Homo sapiens: one gene and its partners. The protein of the gene in region 1 purifies or fractionates together with the protein of each later gene. This does not show direct contact. Each region holds a gene or a part of one and is shown in the gene's direction. Other genes may lie near its edges.

What was found.
Region 2: the proteins of CDC45 (region 1) and ACTR1A fractionate together in Homo sapiens (co-fractionation; one large-scale study listed by BioGRID). This does not show direct contact.
Region 3: the proteins of CDC45 (region 1) and POLD1 purify together in Homo sapiens (pull-down; one study listed by IntAct). This does not show direct contact.
Region 4: the proteins of CDC45 (region 1) and KPNA7 purify together in Homo sapiens (co-immunoprecipitation; one large-scale study listed by IntAct). This does not show direct contact.
Region 5: the proteins of CDC45 (region 1) and DTD1 purify together in Homo sapiens (affinity purification with western blotting; one study listed by BioGRID). This does not show direct contact.
Region 6: the proteins of CDC45 (region 1) and NACC1 purify together in Homo sapiens (affinity purification with mass spectrometry; one large-scale study listed by BioGRID and IntAct). This does not show direct contact.
Region 7: the proteins of CDC45 (region 1) and MTMR4 purify together in Homo sapiens (affinity purification with mass spectrometry; one large-scale study listed by BioGRID and IntAct). This does not show direct contact.

What each region holds. Positions count from the first base shown.
Region 1 is NC_000022.11:19,486,042-19,490,189, forward strand, and holds part of CDC45 (cell division control protein 45 homolog), read left to right. Parts: intron 1-4,148. UniProt on the Homo sapiens protein: Required for initiation of chromosomal DNA replication. Core component of CDC45-MCM-GINS (CMG) helicase, the molecular machine that unwinds template DNA during replication, and around which the replisome is built.
Region 2 is NC_000010.11:102,492,355-102,496,502, reverse strand, and holds part of ACTR1A (alpha-centractin), read left to right. Parts: intron 1-4,148. UniProt on the Homo sapiens protein: Part of the ACTR1A/ACTB filament around which the dynactin complex is built. The dynactin multiprotein complex activates the molecular motor dynein for ultra-processive transport along microtubules.
Region 3 is NC_000019.10:50,390,394-50,394,541, forward strand, and holds part of POLD1 (DNA polymerase delta catalytic subunit), read left to right. Parts: intron 1-4,148. UniProt on the Homo sapiens protein: As the catalytic component of the trimeric (Pol-delta3 complex) and tetrameric DNA polymerase delta complexes (Pol-delta4 complex), plays a crucial role in high fidelity genome replication, including in lagging strand synthesis, and repair.
Region 4 is NC_000007.14:99,194,285-99,198,432, reverse strand, and holds part of KPNA7 (importin subunit alpha-8), read left to right. Parts: intron 1-2,266; coding exon 2,267-2,349; intron 2,350-3,094; coding exon 3,095-3,363; intron 3,364-4,148. UniProt on the Homo sapiens protein: Functions in nuclear protein import.
Region 5 is NC_000020.11:18,758,874-18,763,021, forward strand, and holds part of DTD1 (D-aminoacyl-tRNA deacylase 1), read left to right. Parts: intron 1-4,148. UniProt on the Homo sapiens protein: Possible ATPase involved in DNA replication, may facilitate loading of CDC45 onto pre-replication complexes. An aminoacyl-tRNA editing enzyme that deacylates mischarged D-aminoacyl-tRNAs.
Region 6 is NC_000019.10:13,134,616-13,138,455, forward strand, and holds part of NACC1 (nucleus accumbens-associated protein 1), read left to right. Parts: intron 1-584; 5' UTR 585-592; coding exon 593-1,538; intron 1,539-1,616; coding exon 1,617-1,790; intron 1,791-2,655; coding exon 2,656-2,761; intron 2,762-2,862; coding exon 2,863-2,960; intron 2,961-3,531; coding exon 3,532-3,791; 3' UTR 3,792-3,840. UniProt on the Homo sapiens protein: Functions as a transcriptional repressor. Seems to function as a transcriptional corepressor in neuronal cells through recruitment of HDAC3 and HDAC4. Contributes to tumor progression, and tumor cell proliferation and survival.
Region 7 is NC_000017.11:58,504,121-58,508,268, reverse strand, and holds part of MTMR4 (phosphatidylinositol-3,5-bisphosphate 3-phosphatase MTMR4), read left to right. Parts: coding exon 1-108; intron 109-949; coding exon 950-1,146; intron 1,147-1,397; coding exon 1,398-1,526; intron 1,527-2,685; coding exon 2,686-2,797; intron 2,798-3,294; coding exon 3,295-3,490; intron 3,491-3,780; coding exon 3,781-3,966; intron 3,967-4,048; coding exon 4,049-4,148. UniProt on the Homo sapiens protein: Lipid phosphatase that specifically dephosphorylates the D-3 position of phosphatidylinositol 3-phosphate and phosphatidylinositol 3,5-bisphosphate, generating phosphatidylinositol and phosphatidylinositol 5-phosphate.

The sequences.
Region 1 (4,148 bases):
GATGGAGTCTCACTCTGTCACTGAGGCTGGGGTGCAGTGGCACGATCTCGGCTCCCTTCAACCTCTGTCTTCTGGGTTCAAGCGATTCGCCTGCCTCAGCCTCCCAAGTAGCTAGGATTACAGGCATGCACTGCCACAGCCAGCCAGAAACCATGATATTCTACACATTCTTTCATAAGCAGCTCCTAAGAATAAGGACATTCTTCCCCATAAACACAATGCCATTGTCATACATAAGAAATTAATAATATCCTAATATCATGTAATATTCAGCCCATATTCAGGTCTCTTTAATTGTCCTCAAAATATATTTTGCAGCTATTTTTATTTCTGAACTATTCTCCAATCAAGATTAAGACATTTAGCTATTCCTCTTTACTGTCTTAACCTAGAACCATACCTTACCTCTTTTTTTTCTTTTGTTTTTAATGACATTGAAGGCCAGTTCTCTTTTCTAATATTTACTACTACTTGTTTCTTCATGGAGTACTTTAACTTGCTTCTCTATCCCTGCATTTTCTATGATCTGTAAATTAGGTCTAGAGCGTTGATTTTAATAACATTAAGCATTCTTGAGAAGAATACTTTTTATATAATTAAAACCTGTGCATGATTTATAACTAAGTATGTGTATATTAGAGGTATATATATATTTTTTTGAGACGGAGTCTCGCTCTGTCGCCCAGGCTGGAGTGCAGTGGTACGATCTCGGCTCACTGCAAGCTCCTGGGTTCATGCCATTCTCCTGCCTCAGACTCCCAAGTAGCTGGGACTACAGGTGCCTGCCACCACGCCCAGCTAATTTTTTATATTTTTAGTAGAGACGGGGTTTCACCGTGTTAGCCAGGATGGTCTCGATCTCCTGACCTCATGATCCTCCCACCTTGGCCTCCCAAAGTGCTGGGATTACAGGCGTGAGCCACCGTGCCCGGCTGCTTTTTAGAGGTATATTCTTAGAAATATTTTTACCAGCCTGGTGTGGTGGCTCAAGCCTGTAATCCCAACACTTTGGGAGGCCAAGGCGGGTGAATCACCTGAGGTCAGGAGTTTGAGACCAGCCTGACCAACATGGAGAAACCCTGTCTCTACTAAATACAAAAATTAGCCAGGAGCAATGGCAGATGCCGGTAATCCCAGCTACTCGAGAGGCTGAGGCAGGAGAATTGCTTGAACCTGGGAGGCGGAGGTTGTAGTGGGCCAAGATCACGCCACTGCACTCCAGCCTGGGCGACAGAGCAATACTCTTGTCTCAAAAAAAAAAAAAAAAAAAGAAATATTTATACCAGACTGGACAACATAGCAAGACACTGTCTCTACAGAAAAATAAAATAAAAATTAGCCAGGCATGGTAGCATGGTCACATAGGCCCGGCTACTTGGGAGGCTAGAGTGGGAGGATGCCTTGAGACCAGGAGGTTGGTTGAGGCTGCAGTGATCCATGATCACATCACTGCACTCCAGCCTGGGCAACAGAGCAGGACCTCATCTCTTAAAAAGAAAAGAATGAAATATTTTTATTAATAAGGGTGCACATTCAAAGAGGTTTAGAGACAATAGGTTATAAATAATTGTTTTAAGGAGTTCTGCTATAGGCCGGGCGTGGTGGCTCACGCCTGTAATCCCAGCACTTTGGGAGGCCGAGGTGGGTGGATCACGAGGTCAGGAGATTGAGACCATCCTGCTAACACGGTGAAACCCCATCTCTACTAAAAATACAAAAAATTTCCCGGGCATGGTGGCAGGAGCCTGTAGTCCCAGCTACTCAGAAGGCTGAGGCAGGAGGATGGTGTGAATCCAGGAAGCAGAGCCTGCAGTGAGCTGAGATCCACCACTGCACTCCAGCCTGGGCAACAGAGCAAGACTCCGTCTCAAAAAAAAAAAAAAAAAAAAAAGAGTTCTGCTGTAAAGAAAAGAGGAGACATGGGGTCGAGAATCATTTTTACTTGTCTTTTAAAGGTTGGATGTTAGAGCTGGACCCCAGCAAAGATGAGAGTCCGCTATAAAAATAACCATAATTATACTTAATCTACAGGTGCTATAATATCGTGGCTCAGGTCACGGGTTTCAAATTTTGTATCTGCTATAACAGCTTTGTGACTGTAGGCAAGTGACTTAACCTCTGTGTGCCATTGTAAAATAAGGAGAATAACTAGACTTAATTGTTTTGGTTCCTACTGATGTTTAACAAATTACTCCAGAACCTAGCAGCTTAAAACAACCTTTTCCTTATGCTCATGGATTCTGTAGGTTAGGAATTTGGGCAGAGCCCAGTGAGGATGACATCTTTTTGATCTGTGATATCTGGGCCCTCAGGTGGGGACTCAATGGCTAAGAACTGGAAGCATGGCTCAGACATCTGCTGGGAGGGCTCCAAACCAGGACTACTGAGCCAAGCACCTGCAGGGTCTCTCCATTGAATGTGACTTCCTTACAACATGACTGCTCAGGCTTCCAGCATGAATATTCCAGTCACCCGGGCAGCCACTGCATGGCTCTCCCGACCAGCCTTGGAGTACCTCAGCATCCAGTAGCCACAAGGGAGGGGACAGGACCCCACCATGCATTGTGGCAGGGTCAAAGAAATCTCAGGCTGTGGGAATTTTGTTACTTTATTGAGGCATAATGTCTACACAATTCACTAGGTGGTACAATTCAATGAGATTTAACAAATGTATAAAGATGCAACCACCATCCCACCATGATAGAGAACAATTCCATTACCCGCAAAAAGTTTCCTCACCAGGACCATGGCTTTTTTTTAATTAAAGTTTTTCTTTTGAGATAATTACAGATTCACATGTAGTTGTAAGAAGTAATATAGAGAGATCACTTATATACTTTGCCCAGCTTCCCCCAATGGTAAAATCCTGTAGTATAATATCACGGTCAGGATGGGAGGCTAAGGCAGGCGGATCACTTGAGCCCAGGAGTTGGAGACCAGCCTGGGCAACATGGCAAAACCCTGTCTCTACAAAAACTACAAAAATTAGCCAGGTGTGGTGGTGCACACCTATGGTCCCAGCTACTTGGGAGGCTGAGGTGGGAGAATCACCTGAGCCCAGTAAGTCGAGGCTGCAGTGAGCTGTGAGCACACAACTGCATTCCAGCCTGGGCAACTGAGACTATCTCTAAAGAAAAGAAAGTCTCCTTTCTAAATTTATAAATCATGTGATTTTTCAGTTGGCACTCTAAAGGTTAGAAATCACTGTGAAAGTTCTGCCAGAAACTGAATATGTCTATTCCATTTATGCATTCAGAAACTGCCAAAATAACCCATGGGTATTGCTTTAAAAAAAAAAAAAAAGATACAGAACATTTCCAGCACTGTAAGGATCCCTCTGTTGCCCTTTTATAGCCACACCCACTTGTCTGCTGCCTGGTAACCACTAGAGAGCTCCATTTCTGTAATTTCATTTCAACAATATTATGGAAATGGAAATGGAATTATACAGTATGTAGCCTTTTGGGATTGGCTTTTTTTCGCTCTGCATAATTCTTGGAGATTCATCCATGTTTGCTTGTATCAATGGCTCATTCCTTTCTCGTCCATCAGCATTGTGCAGTTTTCAGTGTATAAATTTTCTGTTTTTGTTAGATTTATACCTGCATAAAAACAAACAATATTTATTATTTCTGCGTGCTAGCCATAAATACGTGGACACCAAAATTTAAAATACAGTATCATTTGCAGTCAGTCAAAAAAATGCATAGTCTGCTGTTGTTGGGTAGAGTTTTTTAGAAATGTCACTTACATACTGAGAGTTGGTGGTGGTGTTGAGTTCTGTTTGCTTGCTGCTTTTCTGGCTAGTAATACTTTCAACTCTTCAGAAAGGGACATTGAAGACCCCAACTCTGATTATAGATTTGTTTGTTTCTCCTTCCAGTTCTATCACTTTTTACTTCACGTATTTATAGCTCTCTTGTGCGCACACATTTAGGATTGTGGTGTCCTTTTGGTGGATTGACCCTTTTATTCACTTAGTGTCCCACTCTGTCTCTGGTAATTTGCTTTGCTCTGAAGTGTGATTTATCTGATATTAATATTGCCACTCCTGCTCTCCTTTGATTAATGTTTGCACGATATATCTTTTCACATTCTTTAGTTTCATTCTGCCTATATTGTTACATTTGTAGTGAATTTTTTAAAAC
Region 2 (4,148 bases), on another chromosome or scaffold:
TAAGTCCTCTGAGGGTAAAAAAGAAATCAGATACCATGTGGAAGAAGAAACGTCACCAATTAGTGGCTGCAAATGCCTAGAATAGGGATTTCAAATTCAATGCCTGCAGAGGCCAAGCAGGAATGGAAATATACTCAAAAGAGAAGAGAGAGAATAGCCTGAAAGGCACCTCTTCCAGGCTGGGAAATCTGAAAGGTGCATTGAATTGAGCATGCCTGACCAAAATGTTAACTGATTCTCCTTTCTATCCAATTGTCCCCATGCAGGAATACCGGCCTAGTGTTGCCAGATATTCTGATTTTTAAAAATTTGTGTATTTATCGAGGTCAGGAGATCGAGACCATCCTGGCTAACATGGTGAAACCCCGTCTTTATTAAAAATACAAAAAATTAGCCAGGCGTGGTGGCGGGCACCTGTAGTCCCAGCTATGCAGGAGGCTGAGGCAGGAGAATGGCATGAACCCGGGAGGCGGAACTTGCAGTGAGCCGAGATCTCGCCACTGGACTCCAGCCTGGGCAACAGAGCGAGACTGCGTCTCAAACAAAAACAAAATAAAATAAAAATACAAAAAAATTAGCCAGGTGTGGTGGCAGGCGCCTGTGGTCCCAGCTACTCGGGAGGCTGAGGCAGGAGAATGGCTTTGGACCCGGGAGGCGGAGCTTGCAGTGAGCCGAGATCACGCCACTGCACTCCAGCCTGGGCGACAGAGCAAGAGTCCGTATCAAAAAAAAAAAAAAAAAAAAAAATTGTGTATTTATTTATTTATTTATTTTGAGACGGAGGCTGTCTCTGTCGCCCAGGCTAAATTGCAGTGGCGCAATCTCGGCTCACTGCAACCTCCCCCTTGTGGGTTCAAGAGATTCTCCTGCCTCAGCCTCCCGAGTACTGGGACTATAGGCACGTGCCACCACACCCGGCTAATTTTTTTTTTTTTAGATGGAGTCTCGCACTGTCGTCCAGGCTGGAGTGCAGTCGCGCAATGTCTGCTCACTACAAGCTCCGCCTCCTGGGTTCACGCCATTCTCCTGCCTCAGCCTCCAGAGTAGCTGGGACTACAGGCGCCCACCACTTCACCCGGCTAATTTTTTGTACTTTTAGTGAAGACGGGGTTTCACCGTGTTAGCCAGGATGGTCTCAATCTCCTGACCTCGTGATCTGCCCGCCTTGGCCTCGCAAAATGCTGGGATTACAGGTGTGAGCTACTGCGCCTGGCCTTATTTTGAATTTTTTGTATATATTTTTTGAGGCAGAGGCTCACTCTATCGCCCAGTCTGGAGTGCAGTGGCAAGATCACAGCTCACTGCAGCCCTGACCTCTTGGGCTCAGCCTCCCAAGTAGCAAGGACTATGGACCCGCACCACCACACCCGAGTAATTTTTAAATATTTTGTAGGCCTGGTGTGGTGGCACATGCCTGTAATCCTAGCACTTTGGGAGGCCAAGGCGGGTGGATCACTTGAGATCAGGAGTTCGAGACCAGCCTGGCCAACATGGTGAAACCCCCTCTACACTAAAAATACAAAAATTAGCCGGGCGTGGTGGCGCACACCTGTAACAACAACTACTCAGGAGTCTGAGACAGGACTATCGCTTAAATCCAGGAGGCGGAGGTTACAGTGAGCCGAGATTGTGCCACCGCACTCTAGGTGGGTGACAGAGCCAGACTCCATCTCAAAAAAATTAAAATTAAAATTAAAATTAATATTTTGTAGAGACAGCGTTTTGCCATGTTGCCCAGGCTGGTCTCTCGAACTCTTGGCCTCAAGCAATCCTCCCTCATCTGCCTTCCAAAGTGATGGGGTGACAGGCGTGGGCCACCGCACCCAGCCATACTTTTTGTTTGTTTGGTTGGTTGGTTGGTTGGTTTTGAGACAGGGTCTTATCTTACTCTGTCATCCAGCCTGGAGTGCAGCAGTGCAATTACAGCTTGCTGCAGCCTTGACCTCCCAGACTCAAGTGATCCTCCAACCTCAGCCTCCTGAGTAGCTGGGACCACAGGCACACAACCACCATGCCCAGCTAATTTTTGTATTTTTGTAGAGACGGGGTTTCGCCATGTGCAGGCTGGTCTCGACCTCCCGGGCTCAGGCAGTCTTCCTAGCTCAGCCTCCCAAGTAGCTAGGAGTACAGGCACACATCACCATGCCTGGCTAACTTTTTGGTATTTTTTGTAGTGATGGGGTTTCTCCATTTTGGCCAGGCTGGTCTCAAACTCCTGGCCTCAAAGTGATTTGCGTGCCTCGGCCTTCCTAAGTGCTTGGATTATAGGCATGAGTTACCACACCCAGCCAAGACTACTCAAGAAGCCTCTACCAGGCATTTTTTCATTTGGCCTTGCCAGAGTGAATAACAAAGACAGTGGCAGCTTATTTGCCAGGTACACAGTTCCTAGTTGTAAATACTGTTAAAGAAATGGACATAACCCTTTTGTATGCTCTTGAGCAGAATTTGTGTGGCTTGAGCAGAATTGAGGCAGCTCAGCTGCTCCTCATTCTCCACTGATTCTTCACCCTATGACTGGCATGGCAGGCCTGCTTGGGGGCTGCAAGGACACGCTGGGTCTGGTTCCACCTTGTGCATCACTCCCAGTGCTGCTTTCCCCTTTGCTGAACCGCCTCTGCCTGGGGCTTCTGTCATTTCAGCTGGTCATTCAGGTTCCATACTTTAGGTTCTATCTGCCAGTCATTTGCACTTGATTTTAATTTTACTCAGCCAGCATCTGTTGAGTACCCAGCAAATGCCAGATACTGCCAAAATGTATTTTAGCCTTAAGGAACTTCAACTGAAAAGAGACGAAAGTGGAAACCTTACATTGTAATAAAAAGCAGAATGAAGTGCATGCCACCTCGTGGTACAGGTAATGGAAATTTGCTGTGAGATAATAGGAAGATGATCATTCATTCCAACTGGGGATGTTTCTTCAGGAGGAAGGTGATGATATTTGAACTGGGCTTTTTATACTCTTTGCTAGGAAGGACAGAGAAGAAAAAACAAATCTGACTTCATAATCTGCCTGTTTACCCAGACTCTAGTCCTTTTGCTAGTAAACTAAAAATAAAATACCCAGGAAAATCATCTCTTAAAAATATCCAGGGTCTGAAGGACAGATCTCATCCTCTCTTGTTTTTAACCTCTGCCGGGAGACCCAATTAGTCTGTTGGCATCACCACACCCAGATGAAGGCAGTGAGCAATCATTGGAAGCCTGAGCAAACAAGTTCTAGGAGTTCCCCCCTTGCCTGTCCGTGCCTTGCTCTCAGAGCCCTTGGGTTTGTAGGCAAATTGCCCCTCCTTCCCAGTCTTTCAGCTCACTTGACAGCTGCACCTTTTCCAGGCTCCTTGTTGTACTGCCCAGTCCAATGAGTTTGCACATTGTCTTCTGTTTTCACTCTCTTCTGTTGGCAAAGATTCCTGCTCCCTTAGAGAACTGGCTGCCCTGCTCTCCTCTCATACCACTTTCTCTGCCCTTCAACCACTTCTTTTTTTTTTTTTTTTTTTTTTTGAGGTGGAGTCTCACTCTGTCTCCCTGGCTAGAGTGCAGTGGTGCGATCTTGGCTCACTGCAACCTCCACCTCCTGGGTTCAAGTGATTCTCCTGCCTCAGCCTCCCTGAGTAGCTGGGATTACAGACGTGTAGCACACCTGGCTAATTTTTGTATTTGTAGTAAAGACAGTGTTTTGCCATGTTGGCCAGGCTGGCCTTGAACTCCCTGGCCTCATGTGATCTGCCCCGCTTCGGCCTCCCACAGTGCTGGGATTACAGGCGTGAGCCACCACACCTGGCTTCCTTCAACCACTTGCTTCCTCCACCAACCTCTGTCTTGCCAAAGGCAAGCACCAGATGGCCAGTCTCACTCCCCCTCTTCCTGCAGAAGAGCAGGAATAAGAGAGTCAAGGAGGGAAGCAGGCATGTTGCTGGGAAGCCTTTGGTGCAGATAACCTTGGCTACTTAGAGTCTCCAGGTGTGTTCAGTGCTTGTAGAATGAGGTCAGTAAATACCACACTCCACCCCAGGAGAGTGGTCAACAGGCAGCAGGAAAAGGCTTGCCCCAGCTACGGGTGCAGCTGCAAACCATGTTGGGTTAGAAAGGTGAGGGTATCAGGTGTGGTGGTAGAAGAGTTAAGAAGGAAGAAGAGGCCAGGCGCGGTG
Region 3 (4,148 bases), on another chromosome or scaffold:
GGAAAGCAGACCATCTTGGGTTTTATATTCTGGAGGCAACATGACATGTTGGGCTAAAATGATGAAGGACATCCTGTTTCTAGGAGGGACTGGAACAGAGCCTGGGCTGTTTCAGCCAGTCCCTCCTTATCTCAGGATATTGCATTCCTAGCACATTCTACAGTTATTCTTGAGAACTATTTTTTTTTTTTTTTTAGTATTTATTGATCATTCTTGGGTGTTTCTTGGAGAGGGGGATTTGGCAGGGTCATAGGACAATAGTGGAGGGAAGGTCAGCAGATAAACAAGTGAACAAAAGTCTCTGGTTTTCCTAGGCAGAGGGCCCTGCGGCCTTCCGCAGTGTTTGTGTCCCTGGGTACTTGAGATTAGGGAGTGGTGATGACTCTTAAGGAGCATGCTGCCTTCAAGCATCTGTTTAACAAAGCACATCTTGCACCGCCCTTAATCCATTTAACCCTGAGTGGACACAGCACATGTTTCAGAGAGCACGGGGTTGGGGGTAAGGCCGTAGATTAACAGCATCCCAAGGCAGAATTTTTCTTAGTACAGAACAAAATGGAGTCTCCTATGTCTACTTCTTTCTACACAGACACAGCAACAATCTGATCTCTCTTTCCTTTCCCATTTCCCCCTTTTCTATTCGACAAAACCGCCATCGTCATCATGGCCCGTTCTCAATGAGCTGCTGGGTACACCTCCCAGACGGGGTGGCGGCCAGGCAGAGGCGCTCCTCACATCCCAGACGGGGCGTCGGGGCAGAGGCGCTCCCCACATCTCAGACGATGAGCAGCCGGGCAGAGACGCTCCTCACTTCCTAGACGGGATGGCGGCTGGGAAGAGGCGCTCCTCACTTCCCAGACTGGGCGGCCAGGCAGAGATGCTCCTCACTTCCCAGACGGGGTGGCGGCCGGGCAGAGGCTGCAATCTCGGCACTTTGGGAGGCCAAGGCAGGCGGCTGGGAGGTGGAGGTTGTAGCGAGCCGAGATCACGCCACTGCACTCCAGCCTGGGCACCATTGAGCACTGAGTGAGCGAGACTCCGTCTGCAATCCCGGCACCTCGGGAGGCCCAGGCGGGCAGATCACTCGCGGTCAGGAGCTGGAGACCAGCCCGGCCAACACGGCGAAACCCCGTCTCCACCAAAAAATACAAAAACCAGTCAGGCATGGCGGTGCGTGCCTGCAATCCCAGGCACTCAGCAGGCTGAGGCAGGAGAATCAGGCAGGGAGGTTGCCGTGAGCCGAGATGGCGGCAGCACAGTCCAGCCTCAGCTCGGCATCAGAGGGAGACTGAGAGGGGGGAGGGGGAGGGGGAGGGAGAGGGAGAGGTCTTTTTTTTTCCCACTCCCCCGCTCTTGTTGCCCGGGCTGGAGTGCAATGGCGCAATCTTGGCTCACTGCAACCTCCGCCTCCCAGGTTCAAGCGATTCTCCTGCCTCAGCCTCCCAAGTAGCTGGGATTATAGGCGCCCGCCACCATGACAAGCTAATTTTTGTATTTTTTTTAGTATAGACGGGGTTTTCACCACGTTGGCCAGGCTGGTCTTAATCTCCTGACCTCAGGTGATCGGCCTGCCTCAGCCTCCCAAAGTGCTAGGATTACAGGCGTGAGCCACTGCACCTGGCCCATCATTTTACTTTTTTAATCCAAGTTCTAACCTAGGATAACACACATTGTCATGGCAACTTTTTCATTTTTTAAGACATGTCTTGCTCTCTTGCCCAGACTGTATTGCAGTGGTGCAGTCATGGCTCACTGCAGCCTTCACCTCCCAGGTTCAAGTGATCCTCCCACCTCAGTCTCCCAAGTAGCTGGGACTGTAGGTATGCACCACCATGCTTAAGTAATTTTTAATTTTTTGTAGAGATTGACTAATTTTTAATTTTTTGTAGAAATGGAGTCTCACCATGTTGCCTAGGCTAGTTTCTAACTCCTGGCCTCAAGTGATCATCCCACCTCAGCCTCCCAAAGTGTTGGGATTACAGACGTGAGCCTCCTAGCCCAGGCAACTTACTTTTTCATGACATCGACAGTTTTAAAGATTACAGACCAGTGTTGTCACCCCTCACCTTGGATTCGTTTGTTTCTTTTTCTTGTTTTGTTTTGAGACAGAGTCTTGCTCTGTCACCCAGGCTGGAGTGCAGTGGCGTGATCGCAGCTCACTGCAACCTCTGCCTCCCAGGTTCAAGTGATTCTCCTGCCTCAGCCTCCCAAGTAGCTGGTATTACAGGCACCCACCACCACGCCTGGCTAATTTTTGTATTTTAGTAGAGATGGGGTTTCACCATGTTGGTCAGGCTGGTCTGGAACTCTTGACCTCAAGTGATCCACCCTCCTTGGCCTCCCAAAATGCTGGGATTACAGGCGTGAGCCACTGCACCCAGGCTGTTTGTTTCTTAATGACTAGAATCAGGGTAAACGTTTTCTTAGACATTGTTTTTCAACACAAAAGATAAAATTGTGAGTGCACCACTGTGCATCTTGCTTTATCTACTGAACAATGCCTCTTTGAGAACCTTCCCTATCAGTACACAAAGAGCTTCCTCATTCCTTTACACAGTTGCATAGTATTCCATTGAACGGACTTAACATATTTAAATAGCCCCCTGGGGGAGGACAGTTAGGTGGTTTCCAGTCCTTGGGGATTTCAAACGATGCTTCCGGAAATAACCTTATAAATGCAGTTTTTCTTATGTGATAATATATCTACAGTGTACGTCCCTAGATGTGGAATTGAGCCTCCAAACTTTTATGTTTATAATTGAGGTGGCATTTACATGGCGTGCCATGCCCAGGTCTCCAGTGTACAGTCAGCTGTATAGTGTGTTTTATCACCCCAGAAACCCCCTCATACCCTTCCCAGTCTCTCCTACCCTAGGAGCAGCCACTAGTCTGATTTCTAGCGCTGTAGATCACTTTAGTGTATTCTACAACTTTGTCTAAATGGTATTGTACAATTTTTATGGAGGTAAAATTAGCCATTTTAAAGCAAACAATGGCTGGGCGTGGTGGTTCATACCTGTAATCCCAGCACTTTGGGGAGGCCAAGGCAGGCAGATCACTTGAGCCCAGGGGTTTCAGACCAGCCTCAGCAACATGGCAAAACCCGTCTTTACCAAAAAACAATTGGCTAGGCATGGTGGCACGCATCTGTCTTCATAACTACTCAGGAGGCCAAGGTGGGAGGATCACCTGAGCCCGGGAGGTCAAGGCTGCAGTGAGCTGAGATCATGCCACTGCACTCTAGCCTGGGCAACAGAGTGAGATCCTGTCTCAATAAAGAGAGAAAGTAATAATAAAGCAAAGAATTCAGTTGGTACGTTCACAGTGTTGTACAACCATTACCTCTGTCTAGTTTCAAAACATTTCATCACCCCTACAGAAAACCCCATACTCCGTAAGCAGTCACTCCTCATTCCCCCAGTGTGCACTTTGCCTTCTGCACAGCCTGCTTTCAAGATTCATCCGTGTTGCATGTCTGTCAGGAGCTGGCCCCTCTCTAATGCTGAGTGTCTGTTATGAACCTCCCTGAACATTTCTAACATATACTCCATCAGTTCAGAATTTTTCCATGCTTATTTCAGGTCTAAGCTGTTGTACCAAGGAGCCCCCAAAACACAGTGGCCCAAGAAAGATACAAATTGATTTCTCCACATAACGCTTTGGAAGATAGGCAAGTGTGCAGGGTTGGCAGACAGCTTTGCTCTGGAAGGTTGTTGGGGAGCCCAGTGTTGTCCCTGTCCTTGTGGTTGGCTCTCCCACTACATCCATGTTCCAGCCACTGTGACGGGGAAGAGGGTGGGAGGATGTCCCAGTAGCTGCACACCTCATGATCACTCTCATTCCTGGAGGGAGAACTTAGTCACGTGGCCCTCCTGGCAGCGCACACTGGGAAATGTAGCCTTTGGCTGGGCAGCCTGTGGCCACTCCGGACACGCAGGGTTGGAGGGGTGTGTTCTATTGCAAAAAAGCAAAGCAAAGCCGGGCGCGGTGGCTCACACCCATAATCCCAGCACTTTGGGAGGCCGAGGCGGGCGGATCATCTGAGGTCAGGAGTTCCACACCAGCCTGGCCAACATGGTGAAACCCCATCTCTACTAAAAATACAAAAAAAAATTAGCGGGTATGATGGTGGACGCCTGTAATCCCAG
Region 4 (4,148 bases), on another chromosome or scaffold:
TGACCAATATGTTGACCATATGTTTCATACGTTTAGGCATTTGGTTTCCTCCTATTTTGTTGAATTTTTGCATCAGTAGTTATAAGGGATATTAGCTTATACTTTTCTTGTAATATCCTTGGTTTGGTATCAGAGTAATACTAGCCTCTAAGAATGAGTGAGAATTTTTTTTTGTAAAGTTGGTAAAGTTTTTTTGTTGTTGTTTTTTTTGAGATGGAGTTTTACTCTTATCACCCAGGCTGGAGTGCAATGCTGCAATCTTGGCTCACTGCACCTCAGCTTTTTGGCCTTGATGCTTTCTGATAAGAAATCAGCTGTTAATCTTATTGAGGCTTTGTACATGAATTGCTTCTCTTTTGCTGGTTTCAATGTTTTTGATTCTGTAGTTTTGGCTTTCAACAGTTAGATTATAATATGTCTGGATCTTGGGATTTATTCCGTTTGGAGCTCATTGAACTTTTCAGATGTGTAGACTAATTATTCTATTGGATTTGGGAATTTCTTTGGCCATTATCTCTTTAAATATACTTTCTGCCTCTTTCCCTCTTCTCCTTCCTATTCTGCATTTGTTGGTATCCTTGATGATGTCCCACAGATCTCTAAAGATCTGTCAATTTTCATCTTCAGTCTCTCTTGTGTGTGTTATCTTCCTCAGACTGGATAATTCCAATTAACCTATCTTCAGCTTCACTGCTGCTTTATTATGTCTGCTTAAATCTGCTGTTAAGCCCCTTTAGTGAATTTTTGTTTCAGTTATTGTATTCTCCAATTCCAGAATTTGTATCTGGCTCCTTCCAATAACTGATATCTGTTCACTGATATTCTCTATTTAGTGTGACAGCATTGTTGCACTTTAGTTCTTTAGTCATGGTTTAGTTCTTTGACTATATTTAAAATCTTTGTCTAGTTCAACATCTGGTCTCCTCAGGGACTATTGCTATTGATTGCTTTTTTCACATATATATGTATATGTGTGTGTCACACTTTCTTTGCTTGTCTCACAATCTTTGTTGAAAACTAGTCATTTAAAATAGTGTGACAACTCTAGAAATCAGATTTTCCATTGCCCCAGGGTTTGCTGTTGTTGCTGGGTGTGCTCGTTTAGTAGTTTGAGCTAATTATCTAAAATCTGTATTTTTTTGTGATGTGTGGCTGCTGCAGTGTCTGCTTGGTTTGCTCAGTGGTCAACTAATAATTAGAGACTTATTTTAACACTTCGAACCACGAAGAAAAGAACACTCAATTTTTGCCAAGAAGCTCTGTGTTGGGGGCATGCGTTCACCACTCAGCCAGGCAGTTGACAATTCTGACGTAAGCCTTCACTTCCTGTTTGCACAGAGCTTCAAAGTCAGTGAGAGGGAAGAGCTGAGGGTCTTAGTTTTGTTGTTGTTGTTGTTGTTGTTGTTGTTGTTTTTAAGCATATGCATAGCCCTATACATGACATTCCCTTTCAAGTTTTTTTGTTAGCCTGTTGTTTATCCCAACTCTTATTCAACCTCTCAGGTAGCTGTGAAGTTAAACAACTTCCTCTGTTTTCAATGAACATTCTTAGGGAAAAGCCTTTTCATACTGACTAAGCTCTGAGTCAAAATAGTCTGTAAGTGGGATCTTTCAGGGAATGACCAGACAGATCAAATAATAATTTTCTGGGAATGAGGCTCCAAAGGAGGACCTACCTATTTTGCCTCTTCTGGTGGTTGGGAGGCTGTTGGTTTTTCACAATGATTGTGGACTGTTGGTTTTCAGGGTTACCATGGAGCTGAGGGTGGGTGGGAATAGGGCAAGTCAAAATGCCACAAAGCTCTCATGCTACTTACTGAGATTCAGCTGTCTTTCTTGGATAAACACTTCCTGGCTTGAATAAAACAATTGGCCGCAAGCCTTTGGTCAATTTCTACAGTGCTGAAAAAGTTGATTCTATTTTTGTCAGTTTTCTCTTTGCCTATGTGGAGGAGAGAATTTTTTGGATGTCCTTAGTCTGCCATTTTGTTTTGTATCCACTAGCACATTCTTACTGCACGGGATAAAAATGTTCTTGGGATCCAACTAATGATAGGAATTACTTCTCCCCTAAGCATGGGAAGGAACACACAGATCTGTGAGATCTGTGGACTATATTCTCCCCTCCCCAAATATAGAACAGCATGCAAGATGGGACATCCTGTTCAAGCCAGGCTGTTTTAATCAGATGGATGATGGCTAGAGTAGGTGATGTTTACAGCTCATTTTGGCAGACAGTCTGACCTGAATGTGTCTCTTCTTGCAGGTCAGCCTCACTCTGGGTGAAATAATCAAAGGTGTGAATAGCTCAGATCCAGTCCTATGTTTCCAGGCCACCCAGACAGCCAGGTATCTCCAAACAGACTTCTGCTGTTGCAGGTTCATAGTTAGCAATGAGCGTCAGTGATGGCTGGAGCGCCGGTGGCCTATTTGGTTTCTTGGCATTGGCAACATGCCCGTAAAACACAGGAAAAGGCTAGCCCATCTAAAAGACGAAATTGCTATTCTACACTGTCCTTGAGGGCAATTTAAAAGCTTCGATGTGTTGTCAGAGATGAATTGCTTAATTTACATTGGCCTCTACAGAAATTTCATCTTGTAGATAACACCTTAAAGGGGAAAATGTTGATTTAATACCGAAAAATGCTATCGGTTGAACACTAGGATCTTAAGTAGCTCCGGCCCAGCTATGTGGCTTATGTATAAAAGGAGGTTCTTTTTTTCTCTTTTGAGATGGAGTCTCACTCTGTCACCCAGGCTGGAGTGCAATGGTATGATCTTAGCTCACTGCAACCTCCGCCTACTGGGTTCAAGTGATTCTCCTGCCTCAAGCCTCCAGAGAAGCTGAGATTACAGGTGTGCACCACCACACCCAGCTAATTTTTATATTCTTAGTAGAGATGGGACGGGGTTTCACCATGTTGGCCAGGCTGGTCTCGAACTCCTGACCTTGCGACCTCAAGTGATCTGCCCGCCTTGGTCTCCCAAAGTGCTGAGATTACAGGTGTGAGCCACCGCACCTGGCCTAAAAGGAGGTCCTTAATACCTCTCTCACTTGACCTCCCCCTCCCCTGCCCTCTCTTTCATTGCATAGGAAAATGCTATCCCAGGAAAAGAACCCCCCTCTGAAACTGGTCATTGAAGCGGGCCTCATTCCCAGGATGGTGGAGTTCCTGAAGTCATCACTTTACCCCTGCTTGCAGTTTGAGGCTGCCTGGGCCCTGACCAACATCGCTTCAGGGACTTCGGAGCAGACTCGTGCCGTGGTAGAAGGGGGAGCCATCCAGCCCTTGATTGAGCTCCTGTCTTCCTCCAACGTGGCTGTGTGTGAACAGGCAGTGTGGGCTCTTGGTAATATAGCCGGTGAGACTCTCCCCTTAGTGGGCTAAGAAAACGGGGCCAGGTGTGTGGGATACTATAAGGTTTCTTTGGGTGGTGGGGTATACTCGATGTCCCAGAACACTTTGCCATGTAAATACCTAGAAGTGCTGGCAAGGGTACAATGAGCTGTTTCCAAACTCAAAGCCAGGCCAGGCACGGTGGCTCACGTCTGTAATCCCAGCATGTTGGGAGGCCAAGGCGGACGGATCACTTGAGGTCAGGAGTTCAAGACCAGCCTGGCCAACATGGTGAAACCCCGTCTCTACTAAATATACAAAAATTAGCCAGGCATGGTGGTGCATGCCCTGTAGTCCCAGCTACTCGGGAGGCTGAGGCAGGAGAATCGCTTGAACCTGGGAGGAGGAAGTTGCAGTGAACCAAGATAACGCCACTGTACTCCAGTGTGGGCAACAGAGGGAGATTCTGTCTCAAAACACCAAAAGCCCTCAAATCCAAGTTTAGAGGCCAAATATTGAAGCTGAAACAGGATGATACAGTGTATACTGAAGCCACAGGCTAACTAGAGACATCTGCCAACACTAAGGTCCTACAGCCTCAGGGCTTCGTGGCTTCAAGAACAAGTCTTTGGCTTATGCAGTGTGGGAGTTTATGATAGACCCTTACATAACTCGGGACCCCAGAAGGACTCTGCCTTCAGTGGAAGTTGCTAAGGGAACGTGCCAAAAACAAAAACAAAACAACAACAACAAAAAAAAACTCCTTGGTTTGGGCTAACAAGCCTTCCCTGAAAGTGGAATCCTCAGACT
Region 5 (4,148 bases), on another chromosome or scaffold:
AAAGTCTCCCATTATTATTGTGTGGCTTTATGAATCTGGGTGCTTCTGTATTGGGTGCATATATATTTAGGATAGTTAGCTCTTCTTGTTGAAATGATCTCTTTACCATTATGTAATGGCCTTCTTCGTCTCTTTTGATCTTTGTTGGTTTAAAGTGTGTTTTATCAGAGACTAGGATTGCAACCCCTGCCTTTTTTTGTTTTTTCATTTGCTTGGTAGATCTTCCTCCATCCTTTTATTTTGAGCATATGTGTGTCTCTGCACGTGAGATGGGTTTCCTGAATACAGCACACTGATGGGTCTTGACTCTTTATCCGATTTGCCAGTCTGTGTCTTTGAATTGGAGCATTTAGCCCATTCACATTTAACGTTAATATTGTTATGTGTGAATTTGATCCTGTCATTATGATGTTAGCTGGTTATTTTGCTCGTTAGTTGATGCAGTTTCTTCCTAGCCTCGATGGTCTTTACAATTTGGCATGTTTTTGCAGTGGCTGGTACCTTTGTTCCTTTCCATGTTTAGTGCTTCCTTCAGGAGCTCTTTTAGGGCAGGCCTGGTGGTGACCAATCTCTCAGCATTTGCTTGTCTGTAAAGTATTTTATTTCTCCTTCACTTAGGAAGCTTAGTTTGGCTGGATATGAAATTCTGAGTTGAAAATTCTTTTCTTTAAGAATGTTGAATATTGGCCCCCACTCTCTTCTAGCTTGTAGAGTTTCTGCCGAGAGATCCGCTGTTAGTCTGATGGGCTTCCCTTTGTGGGTAACCCAACCTTTCTCTCTGGCTGCCCTTAACATTTTTTCCTTCATTTCAACTTTGGTGAATCTGACAATTATGCGTCTTGGAGTTGCTCTTCTCGAGCAGTATCTTTGTGGCGTTCTCTGTATTTCCTGAATGTGAATGTTGGCCTGCCTTGCTAGATTGGGGAAGTTCTCCTGGATAATATCCTGCAGCATGTTTTCCAACTTGGTTCCATTCTCCCCGTCACTTTCAGGTACACCAATCAGATGTAGATTTGGTCTTTTCACATAGTCCCATATTTCTTGGAGGTTTTGTTCGTTTCTTTTTATTCTTTTTTCTCTAAACTTCTCTTCTCGCTTCATTTCATTCATTTGATCTTCCATCACTGATACCCTTTCTTCCAGTTGATCGAATTGGCTATTGAGGCTTATGCGTTCGTCACATAGTTCTCGTGTCGTGGTTTTCAGCTCCATCAGGTCCTTTAAGGACTTCTCTGCATTGGTTATTCTAGTTAGCCATTCGTCTAATCTTTTTTCAAGGTTTTTATCTTCTTTGCCATGGGTTCGAACTTCCTCCTTTAGCTCGGAGTGGTTTGATCATCTGAAGCCTTCTTCTCTCAACTCGTCAAAGTCATTCTCTGTCCAGCTTTGTTCCATTGCTGGTGAGGAGCTGCATTCTTTTGGAGGAGGAGAGGTGCTCTGATTTTTAGAATTTTAAGTTTTTCTACTCTGTGTTTTCCTCATCTTTATGGTTTTATCTACCTTTGGTCTTTGATGATGGTGACGTACAGATAGGGTTTTGGTGTGGATGTCCTTTCTGTTTGTTTGTTTTCCTTCTAATAGTCAGGACCCTCAGCTGCAGGTCTGTTGGAGTTTGCTGGAGGTCCACTCCAGACCCTGTTTGCCTGGCTATCAGCAGTGGAGGCTGCAGAACAGTGGATATTGGTGAACAGCAAATGTTGCTGCCTGATCGTTCCTCTGGAAGTTTTGTCTCAGAGGAGTACCCGGCCGTGTGAGGTGTTAGTCTGCCCCTACAGTGCGGTGCCTCCCAGTTAGGCTACTCAGGGGTCAGGGACCCACTTGAGGAGGCAGTCTGTCTGTTCTCAGATCTCAAGCTGCATGCTGGGAGAACCACTACTCTCTTCAAAGCTGTCAGACAGGGACATTTAAGTCTGCAGAGGTTTCTGCTGCCTTTTGTTTGTCTGTGCCCTGTCCCCAGAGGTGGAGTCTACAGAGGCAGGCAGGCCTCCTTGAGCTGCGGTGGGCTCCACCCAGTTCGAGCTTCCCGGCCGCTTTGTTTGCCTACTCAAGCCTCGGCAATGGTGGGCGCCCCTCCCCCAGCCTTGCTGCCACCTTGCAATTTGATCTCAGACTGCTGTGCTAGCAATGAGCGAGGCTCTGTGGGCGTAGGACCCTCAGAGCCATGCGCGGGATATAATCTCCTGGTGTGCCGTTTGCTAAGACCATTGCAAAAGCGCATTATTAGGGTGGGAGTGACCCGATTTTCCAGGTGCTGTCTATCACCCCTTTCCTTGGCTAGGAAAGGGAATTCCCTGGCCCCTTGCGCTTCCCGGGCGAGGCGATGCCTCGCCCTGCTCGGTGTGCTGCAGCTACTGTCCTGCATCCACTGTCCAGCAATCCCCAGTGAGATGAACCCTGTACCTGAGTTGGAAATGCAGAAATCATTCGTCTTCTGCGTGGCTCACACTGGGAGGTGTAGACTGGAGCTGTTCCTATTTGGCCATCTTGGCTCCACCTCTGATAATTATTATTAACATAATGCTTTGGAATACTTTTTCTAAACAGGTAATTCTACATCTGTTTCTCTAACTTTACAAAGTTGGAGACATACTGTATATATATAGTGTCACCTGTTTTTTATCTTTTAACAGAATATCTTTAACATTTCTCTAGGTCATTCTTTTACTGTGAGCTTTATAATTTCCATCTGCACATCAAATATTTGAAGACTAAATTATCCCAATGCATTAAAAATGTAGAATATTGTAGAATATTTAATTGAAGTAAATGTAAAAGAAAAATACGTTCAACCAGGATTCCAAAGCTCATCTTAAGTTCAAAAACAAAGATTTTAATCTGTGCCAAGAAGATGGAGTTTCTCAAAGGTCAATGTGGGGAACAATTACAGTATTTCAGTTATTGGTATTGAAGGTAGGGAAACAAGTATGAATAGTCCCCAGGTCCGTAACTTGGGTTAACATCATCCACACAATGTAAGAACAAATGGGTTGTTTCTAATAGCTAAAAACTGAAAGTAATATGGTCCCCAGGAATGATGTTGTCTGTTCTCCACCCACTGGTTGTCTTTTAGAAAACTCTTAGGAAGGTGTGCAGGACTCTTACAGGTGGGTTTGGGTGTACGAGGGTAGCCCTTGGGGATATGGTGGCAGACAGAGCTGCAGAGCATGGGCTAGCTGTGGTTCCAGCTTGCCTTTCTCATGTGTGCACAGGGACTTCGCTATCCAGCTGGGCAGGGGAATGAGGGCTGTTAGTCTATGGAAGCATCTGCTTGTGATACAACCCTTTCTTAAGAAGGTGGCCTGCACTGAGTGTATCAGGAAGCACATCCATGGAGGTGGCACTGCCATGGCATATTGAGTCGTATTGAAATCTTTTGCTTTTACTGAAGTCCATCCAATTAGAATCTAGATCTGAGGGAATAGAAACTCTTCTGTTAGGCTTTAGCTTTAGTTTAACTTTTGGATGACAAATGCATGCATCATAGATCTCGGCAATACTAGCTGGTTTTTGTTATAGCCTCGGAATTACAAAAGGAAACCCTGAGACACTTGGACTTCTGTACCAAACAGCCAGGCATCCTTTGAGTAGTATTTAAAATGTCGCAAGACTAAGCATTTAGTTTATTCCCTCCCTGTCCCTGCATTTCCTTAAGCTCCCATCCCTCTACCTCCCTCATTGTTAAAATGATTTGGAAATCATGCTTTTATATCTCTTTTCTAGGAATTTGTTCATTTCATCTATGTTGTCTAATTTGTGAGTCGAAAGTTGCTTGTGATATATTCCTTTTATCTTTTTAATGTCTGTAATGTCTGTACTGATGTTGCCTCTTTGATTCCTGATATTGATAATTTGTGTCTTCTCTCTTTTCTGGGTAAGTCTGACCAGAGACTTATCTATTTTATTGATCTTTTTATTTTTATTTTTTCTCTCTTGCCTTTTTCTGTTTGAAATGTCATCAGTTTCTGCTCCTTATTATTCTCTTCCTTCTCTGCTTGTTTTGGATTTACTTTGCTTTTATTCTTCAATTTCTTAAGGTAGAAACCCAGATTATTGATTTGATAACCTTTTTCTTTTGTAATATAAGCATTTAATGCTGTGAATTTCCCTCTAAGCCCTGCCTTAGGTGAATATAACAAATTATGATATGT
Region 6 (3,840 bases), on another chromosome or scaffold:
GCCTCAGCCTCCCAAAGTGCTGAGATTACATGAGTGAGCCACTGCGCCTGACCTCATGTAATTTCTTGAGTGGTCATTTAGTCATTATACAAACAGTGATTGAAGGGCATGTGCCCAGCACTGCAGACTCTGCTGCACAGTCAGATGACCCTGCCTTTCTGGCATTTCCATGCCAGTACCCTGAAGAGATACCATATATGTACCTGGTGCTTGCAATAGCTGGCACTCAGAGGTAGCACACTGTGTCCTAGCCACTCTTCCGAGCACTTAAGCATATTCAGTTACTCTTCAAGTACATATGAATAAGTATGCCTTTGCCCCCTCCTCTTTGCAAGGGATAGCGTGTGGCCACCCTGGTCTGCAGCTAGCTTAGCAGATTTGACCACATATTGTAAAAGTGAGTCTGTACCAGGACAGATAGGGTAGAGGGCTCTGTGTGGTTTAGCACCATGGTAGATTCCATCGTGCGGATGTCCCTCCAGCAGGGGAGGTCTTTGGGGCCAGGGCTAGGCCAGCACCCACATTTGCCGCCTGACCCCGTCCCTCCGTCTCTGTCTCTCCATTCCTCCCTGCCCCTCGTGCAGCCGCTGCCATGGCCCAGACACTGCAGATGGAGATCCCGAACTTCGGCAACAGCATCCTGGAGTGCCTCAATGAACAGCGGCTGCAGGGCCTGTACTGTGACGTGTCAGTGGTGGTCAAGGGCCATGCCTTCAAGGCCCACCGGGCCGTGCTTGCTGCCAGCAGCTCCTACTTCCGGGACCTGTTCAACAACAGCCGCAGCGCCGTGGTGGAGCTGCCGGCGGCTGTGCAGCCCCAGTCTTTCCAGCAGATCCTCAGCTTCTGCTACACGGGCCGGCTGAGCATGAACGTGGGCGACCAGTTCCTGCTCATGTACACGGCTGGCTTCCTGCAGATCCAGGAGATCATGGAGAAGGGCACCGAGTTCTTCCTCAAGGTGAGCTCCCCGAGCTGCGACTCCCAGGGCCTGCATGCGGAGGAGGCCCCATCGTCGGAGCCCCAGAGCCCCGTGGCGCAGACATCGGGCTGGCCAGCCTGTAGCACCCCGCTGCCCCTCGTGTCGCGGGTGAAGACGGAGCAGCAGGAGTCGGACTCCGTGCAGTGCATGCCCGTGGCCAAGCGGCTGTGGGACAGTGGCCAGAAGGAGGCTGGGGGCGGCGGCAATGGCAGCCGCAAGATGGCCAAGTTCTCCACGCCGGACCTGGCTGCCAACCGGCCTCACCAGCCCCCGCCACCCCAACAGGCTCCGGTGGTGGCAGCAGCCCAGCCCGCCGTGGCTGCGGGAGCAGGGCAGCCAGCCGGTGGGGTGGCAGCAGCAGGGGGTGTGGTGAGTGGGCCCAGCACGTCGGAGCGGACCAGCCCAGGCACCTCAAGCGCCTACACCAGCGACAGCCCTGGCTCCTACCACAATGAGGAGGACGAGGAGGAGGATGGTGGCGAGGAGGGCATGGATGAGCAGTACCGGCAGATCTGCAACATGTACACCATGTACAGCATGATGAACGTCGGCCAGACAGGTGAGGTGCCGTCCTGTCCCCCATCCCACCAGCCACCCCTGCTCCTCCTGCCACTCGCGTGCCACTCTCTCCCTGCAGCCGAGAAGGTGGAGGCCCTCCCGGAGCAGGTAGCCCCCGAGTCCCGAAATCGCATCCGGGTTCGGCAAGACCTGGCGTCTCTCCCGGCTGAACTTATCAACCAGATTGGGAACCGCTGCCACCCCAAGCTCTACGACGAGGGCGACCCCTCTGAGAAGCTGGAGCTGGTGACAGGTGGGCCGGTCTCGCCCCAGATCTCTCCCCTCCGCAGCTTTGGAGCCGGCTGGCCTGGGCTGGGCTGGGCAGCTGGTTAGGAGCCCCCAGCACCTCAGTTTCCCTATCTGTGCTGTAGTGTTGGTAACAGCCACCCTAAGGGTGGGGGCGTTGGTGAGATGGAGGAGCTGATACAGCAAGGCCTGGCCTCTAGGTTTCTGGCTTAAGGGGTCGGGGCGAGCATTGGCTATTATTGTTTGGCCGCATGGGTAGATTAGCTACTTCCCGGGCTCCTGTGAAGGCCAGCTACTACCTAGGTTAGGAATTTGGACAGTCACAGGGGCGAATGCCTGTAGTCCTAGCTACTCAGGAGGCTGAGGTGGGAGGATCCCTTGAGCCCAGGAGGTCAAGGCTGCAGTGAGCTGTGGTGGCCACTGCACTCCAGCCTGGGTGACAGAGTGAGACTTCATCTCTTAAAAAAAGAAGAAGAAGACTGTGTTTGGTCCTTGGGTCAGAGTGCCTAGGTGTGAGCCTCCACTCCCTGTTGGTCCTGCTGAGCTTGGGCTCATCTCTAGCTGGTGACAGCCAGCGTGCCCACCTCACACAGGCTTGCGGCACGACTGGCCACACAGCAGGCACCCCGAGGATGGTGAAGCAACCCTTTCTGTCCTTTCCTGAGCACTGATGAGGTTGGGGGAGCCCCAAGGAGCCTCCCCTGACTGCCCTTGGTGGGTAGAGATGTAGGGGAGAAGGTCCCTGGGTGAGTTTTCTTGGGACCCAGAGCCCAGCAGGGAGGGCCTGGGGTGTTCTGAGATGAGGCCTGGTATCATGGGGGCTGTGGCGGTTTGGGGGCACCCCAGGCCATCCTCCGGCTTCCTCTCACCAGGCACCAACGTGTACATCACAAGGGCGCAGCTGATGAACTGCCACGTCAGCGCAGGCACGCGGCACAAGGTCCTACTGCGGCGGCTCCTGGCCTCCTTCTTTGACCGGTAAGGCCCTTGCCAGAGCCCCAGGGAGGGGGGTGGGGTTTCCCCATGTCCCCCCCACCACCAACTTGAGCGCTGACTCCCTCCATGTCCCCTGCCCCCAGGAACACGCTGGCCAACAGCTGCGGCACCGGCATCCGCTCTTCTACCAACGATCCCCGTCGGAAGCCCCTGGACAGCCGCGTGCTCCACGCTGTCAAGTGTGAGTGTTGGCCCAGCTGGACGAGGCGTGGGCCCGGGGCACGCAGGTTGACGTTTTTTCCCAGCCTTGGCTCTCAGAGAGGGCTAGAGTTCAGTGTTGAGAAGCATTCTGGGGCTCATTCTAGCCTTGCTGGGAAACCGGCTGTGATTGCTTAGAGATTTCTTCGTGTTTGGGGGATGCACGTGCCGAAGGGAAGCCAGGGAGCCTGTGTCAGGCAGGAGGGTCTCGAACTCAGGGCAGTCTGGGAGGGATGAGGCAGCCAGACAGTGCTAGCCACTCGTCATGGGGGGCATCTAGATTTTCAAGTGACCACTCCCCGTTACTAAATTCTGGCAAATGATCCGAATTTTTCAAGAACACGGGGCCATCCCATCAAAACCAACACATCCCCACACATGGCTGAACTCAGTCCGGTGTAGGGTTGGGTGCACGTAGTGTGGTGTCCTGGCCGCGTGGCCTCACTCGTTTCCCCTTTGAGAGGGAGTCGCAGATGCTGTAGGGGAGCTGGTGAGTAGGCCTTGTGGGAGTCACCTGGCCCCCGTGCCAAGGCCGCACCCACCCTGCCCCACAGACTACTGCCAGAACTTCGCCCCCAACTTCAAGGAGAGCGAGATGAATGCCATCGCGGCCGACATGTGCACCAACGCCCGCCGCGTCGTGCGCAAGAGCTGGATGCCCAAGGTCAAGGTGCTCAAGGCTGAGGATGACGCCTACACCACCTTCATCAGTGAAACGGGCAAGATCGAGCCGGACATGATGGGTGTGGAGCATGGCTTCGAGACCGCCAGCCACGAGGGCGAGGCGGGTCCCTCGGCTGAAGCCCTGCAGTAACCCGCCCAGCCTCCCGCGGGGCCACACACTTCCCCTCCCAACACACACA
Region 7 (4,148 bases), on another chromosome or scaffold:
CCCCAGTTACCCCCAGAAGCTGCTGGTTCCTGTGTGGATCACTGACAAAGAGCTGGAGAACGTGGCTTCCTTCCGCTCCTGGAAGCGGATTCCCGTGGTTGTGTATAGGTGAGGCAGTGGGGCTGGGAAGTAGGGAGGCCATTTCTTATGCAACAAGGAAAGAGTCAAAATTGGAGATTTTGGGTAACCTGGTTGACTGAGAATTGACACTCTATGGGGAAGTATGAAATAACTTTAAAACAAAAACTATCTTAGTTTTTTCTCCTAAGAATAAGGCTATTAGGGAGTTTATTCATTCCCCCCCTTTTTTTAGAGTGTGTGTGTGTGTGTGTGTGTGTGTGTGTGTGTGTATAAAATAGTACATTATTTTATACACACATTAGTACAGGGGTTGGCAAACTGGCCTGCAGACAAAATCTGGCTTATAGCCTATTATATAAAACGGCTTGTAAGCTGTGAGTGGTTTTTACATTTTTAAAGGGCTATTTTTAAAAAAAGCAAAGAAGAATACATGACAGAAACTGGTTGTGACCCACAAGGCCAAAAATTGTTGTCTGGTTTTTTACTGAAAATGTTTGCTGATCCCTGCACTAGAATATTGTAGCTAAAATAGAGTGAGACAGGAAGTAACCCTGAAGTTTGGAATTGTTCCTATTCTTGGCTCAGCCAGGCCTTGTTCTCCTGCTGGGTGTCTGTACCTGGAGCAGTTGCTGTGCAGATTTGATGAGTCAAGGTCACCTTGGACATACAGAGCCCATTTGAGAAAGTATGTGTGATGGTGCTTTGTAAACGGTGAAGCCTGCTAGTGACGTTGGGGCTTTTGGTTGCTGTTATGGCCTGGATGAGTTGGTAGCCCCTGCTGGCTCTAGAGACTTTGGTCTAACCCCCTGAGGTAGGCCTCTGGAGGCTTCGAATGCCAAGGGCATTACGGTTTCTTCTGTTTTGTCAGACACTTGCGCAATGGGGCTGCCATCGCCCGCTGCAGCCAGCCAGAGATCAGCTGGTGGGGCTGGCGCAATGCTGATGATGAGTACCTGGTCACGTCCATTGCTAAAGCCTGTGCCCTGGACCCGGGGACAAGGGCCACTGGGGGCTCCCTCAGCACCGGGAATAATGATACCAGCGAGGCGTGTGATGCTGACTTTGGTAAGGTGTGGATGATGCTAACCCCCCAGGGAGCAGGCCCCCTCCTTGGCTTCATTGGCTCCCAGGGAGTCCCCAGTGAGAGTCTGGGAAGATGACAACACACGGGGTGCTGGGGTCCCTGCCTTGTCAGAAGCTGTGGGGTATGAGGGGTCTCTAGTTGCATGTTCTGCCTTCTGAGAGGGAGTGCCAGAGGGCCAGCAAGAGGTTGGGTGGCTGGCTGACTCAGGGACTCCTTCCTGCTGTGTGTTTAGATTCTTCTCTGACTGCGTGCTCTGGAGTGGAGAGCACAGCAGCTCCTCAAAAGCTGCTGATCCTGGATGCGCGATCCTACACGGCAGCAGTGGCCAACCGGGCCAAGGGTGGAGGCTGTGAATGTGAAGGTATTGCTGTTATCCCAGTGTCTGCAGCCAGCCTGTGCTCTGGGTGGCTTTGGTGAGGAGGGGGTTGGGGGCCATTTGTATAGTGGAAAGAGCCCAAACAAACCTGGCTTGTAATCACAACTTTGCTACCTACTAGCTATGGCTATGACTATGCTGAAGTTGCTTAATCTGTCCAAGCTTTATTTTCTCTTCTATAAGAAGGGGATGTTACACACTTTGCAAAATTGTTGGGATGATTAGAAGTTGCATATGTAGGCTGGGCCCAGTGGCTCATGCCTGTAATCCCAGTACTTTGGGAGGCAGAGGCAGGCGGATGGCTTGAGCTCAGGAGTTTGAGACCAGCCTGGGCAACATGGTGAAACCCTGCCTCTATCAAAAATACAAACCATTAGCTGGGCATGATGGTGCATGCCTGTGGCCCCATCCCAGCCACTTGGGAGGCTGAGGCATGAGAATCGCTTGCATCTGGGACGCAGAGGTTGCAGTGAGCTGATATCATGCCACTGCACCTCTAGCCTGGGTGACCATGAGACCCTGTCTTAAAAAAGAAAAAGAAGTTGTATATATAAAATTATTGCCACAGAGCAGCTACTATTTATTGAGAATTGATTATATATTGTCTTTCTAAGTACTGCTATCATTTGTCATTACTGTTACTATTATTAATATATGGCACCTGAGTCTCCAGAGATACAAGTGTGATTCAGATTTCAAGACTGTATTTAGTTCCTATCCTGGAGTGCTCTGCCCTGCCAGGAAAGCTTTGTCCACCAGGACCACTCTTGTCCTGGATGCCTGTTTCCAGGACGTGCTTTTTTTGTTTGTTTGTTTGTTTTGAGACGGAGTCTCGCTCTGTCGCCCAGGCTGGAGTGCAATGTGCCATCTCAGCTCACTGCAACCTCCATCTCCCAGGTTCAAGCAATTCTCCTGCCTCAGTCTCCCGAGTAGCTGGGATTACAAGTGCCTACCACTATGGCCAGCTAATTTTTATATTTTTAGTAGAGATGGGGTTTCACTGTGTTAGTCAGGCTGTTCTTGAACTCCTGACCTCAGGTGATCCAACCGCTTCAGCCTCCCAAAGTGCTGGGATTACAGGTGTGAGCCACCGCGCCCGGCCTAGGACGTGCTTTTATGTCCCACTCTCCTGTCATGTCTACAGAGTACTATCCCAACTGTGAGGTCGTGTTCATGGGAATGGCCAACATCCATGCCATCCGGAACAGCTTTCAGTACCTCCGGGCTGTGTGTAGCCAGATGCCGGATCCTAGCAAGTAGGTGTTCCCTACTTGGATTCCTTCCAGTCTCATTCCTTACCCAGTACCTCTTATTCTTGGAAGATTAGATGGGGAGATGAGAAGTTTGGAGAGCAGGAGACCTGAGGGCCTGGGTGGAGTTGGGTGCCGTGGGCTAGTTCCAAGAACCCTTCCACTTCTCAGCCAACACTTTGGCGTGGTCACAGGACATGGATTCCTTTCGTTTGGATCAGTTGTTCTACTCAAAGAACACAGAGAACTGGGGAGAGGAAATGGCTGAGTGTGCATGTGATGCTTCTCAGTTCCTCTTTTGAGCTTCAGATGCTTTTATCTGCTGTAGGTCCTGTCTTCCCTACCTTCCTGCTAGATACCTCTTGTCCAAAAGGCCCTGGGTTGTACCTCTTGGTTTCAGTTCTCAATGGGGACTTTGTTGGGTGGGGCTGGCTGTGGATGGTGGAGAGACTGCTGTGGCCTCAGCACCCTTTGTGACCGACTTGATGTCTGCTTTTGTGTAGCTGGTTGTCGGCACTGGAGAGTACCAAATGGCTGCAGCACTTGTCGGTGATGCTAAAAGCAGCTGTGCTGGTGGCTAATACAGTAGACCGGGAAGGCCGGCCTGTGCTGGTACACTGCTCAGATGGCTGGGACCGCACACCGCAGATCGTAGCCCTGGCCAAAATATTACTGGACCCATATTACAGGACGTTGGAGGTATTGAGAGGAATTCGGTGGGAAAACCAGAAGGAATGTGGCAGGAGGGAAGGTGTTGAGCCCTCTGGATCTGTCCTGGGGATCTTTCAGTAGAGGACATTGGTGGCTCTTTTTTTCTTTTTTTTTCCAACTCCCAAAGGCTTGGAAAATTGGTGGCTTTGAGTCCTCTTCTAGGTCCAGTCCTATTTTTCTTTGAAGCTGCCAGCTTCCTGCTTTGGGCAGTTCCCAGGGGAGTAGCACATCAGCATTTCCAGAGAGGCCCTATGTTTGAACAGTTTCTTTTTTTGCAGGGCTTCCAAGTGTTAGTGGAGTCTGACTGGCTGGATTTTGGGCACAAGTTTGGAGATCGCTGTGGCCACCAAGAGAATGTGGAGGACCAAAACGAACAATGCCCTGTGTTCCTCCAGTGGCTTGATTCTGTTCATCAGTTGCTTAAGCAGTTCCCCTGCCTGTTTGAATTTAATGAAGCATTCCTGGTAAGTCCTAAGGCCTGTGACAACAGGGATGGGGGGAATGACAGCCCGAGGCCCCCAGGTGCAAGCTCTCTCTGCTTTCTAGGTAAAACTGGTGCAACACACATACTCCTGCCTCTACGGCACCTTCCTGGCCAACAACCCCTGTGAGCGAGAGAAGCGCAACATCTACAAGCGGACCTGCT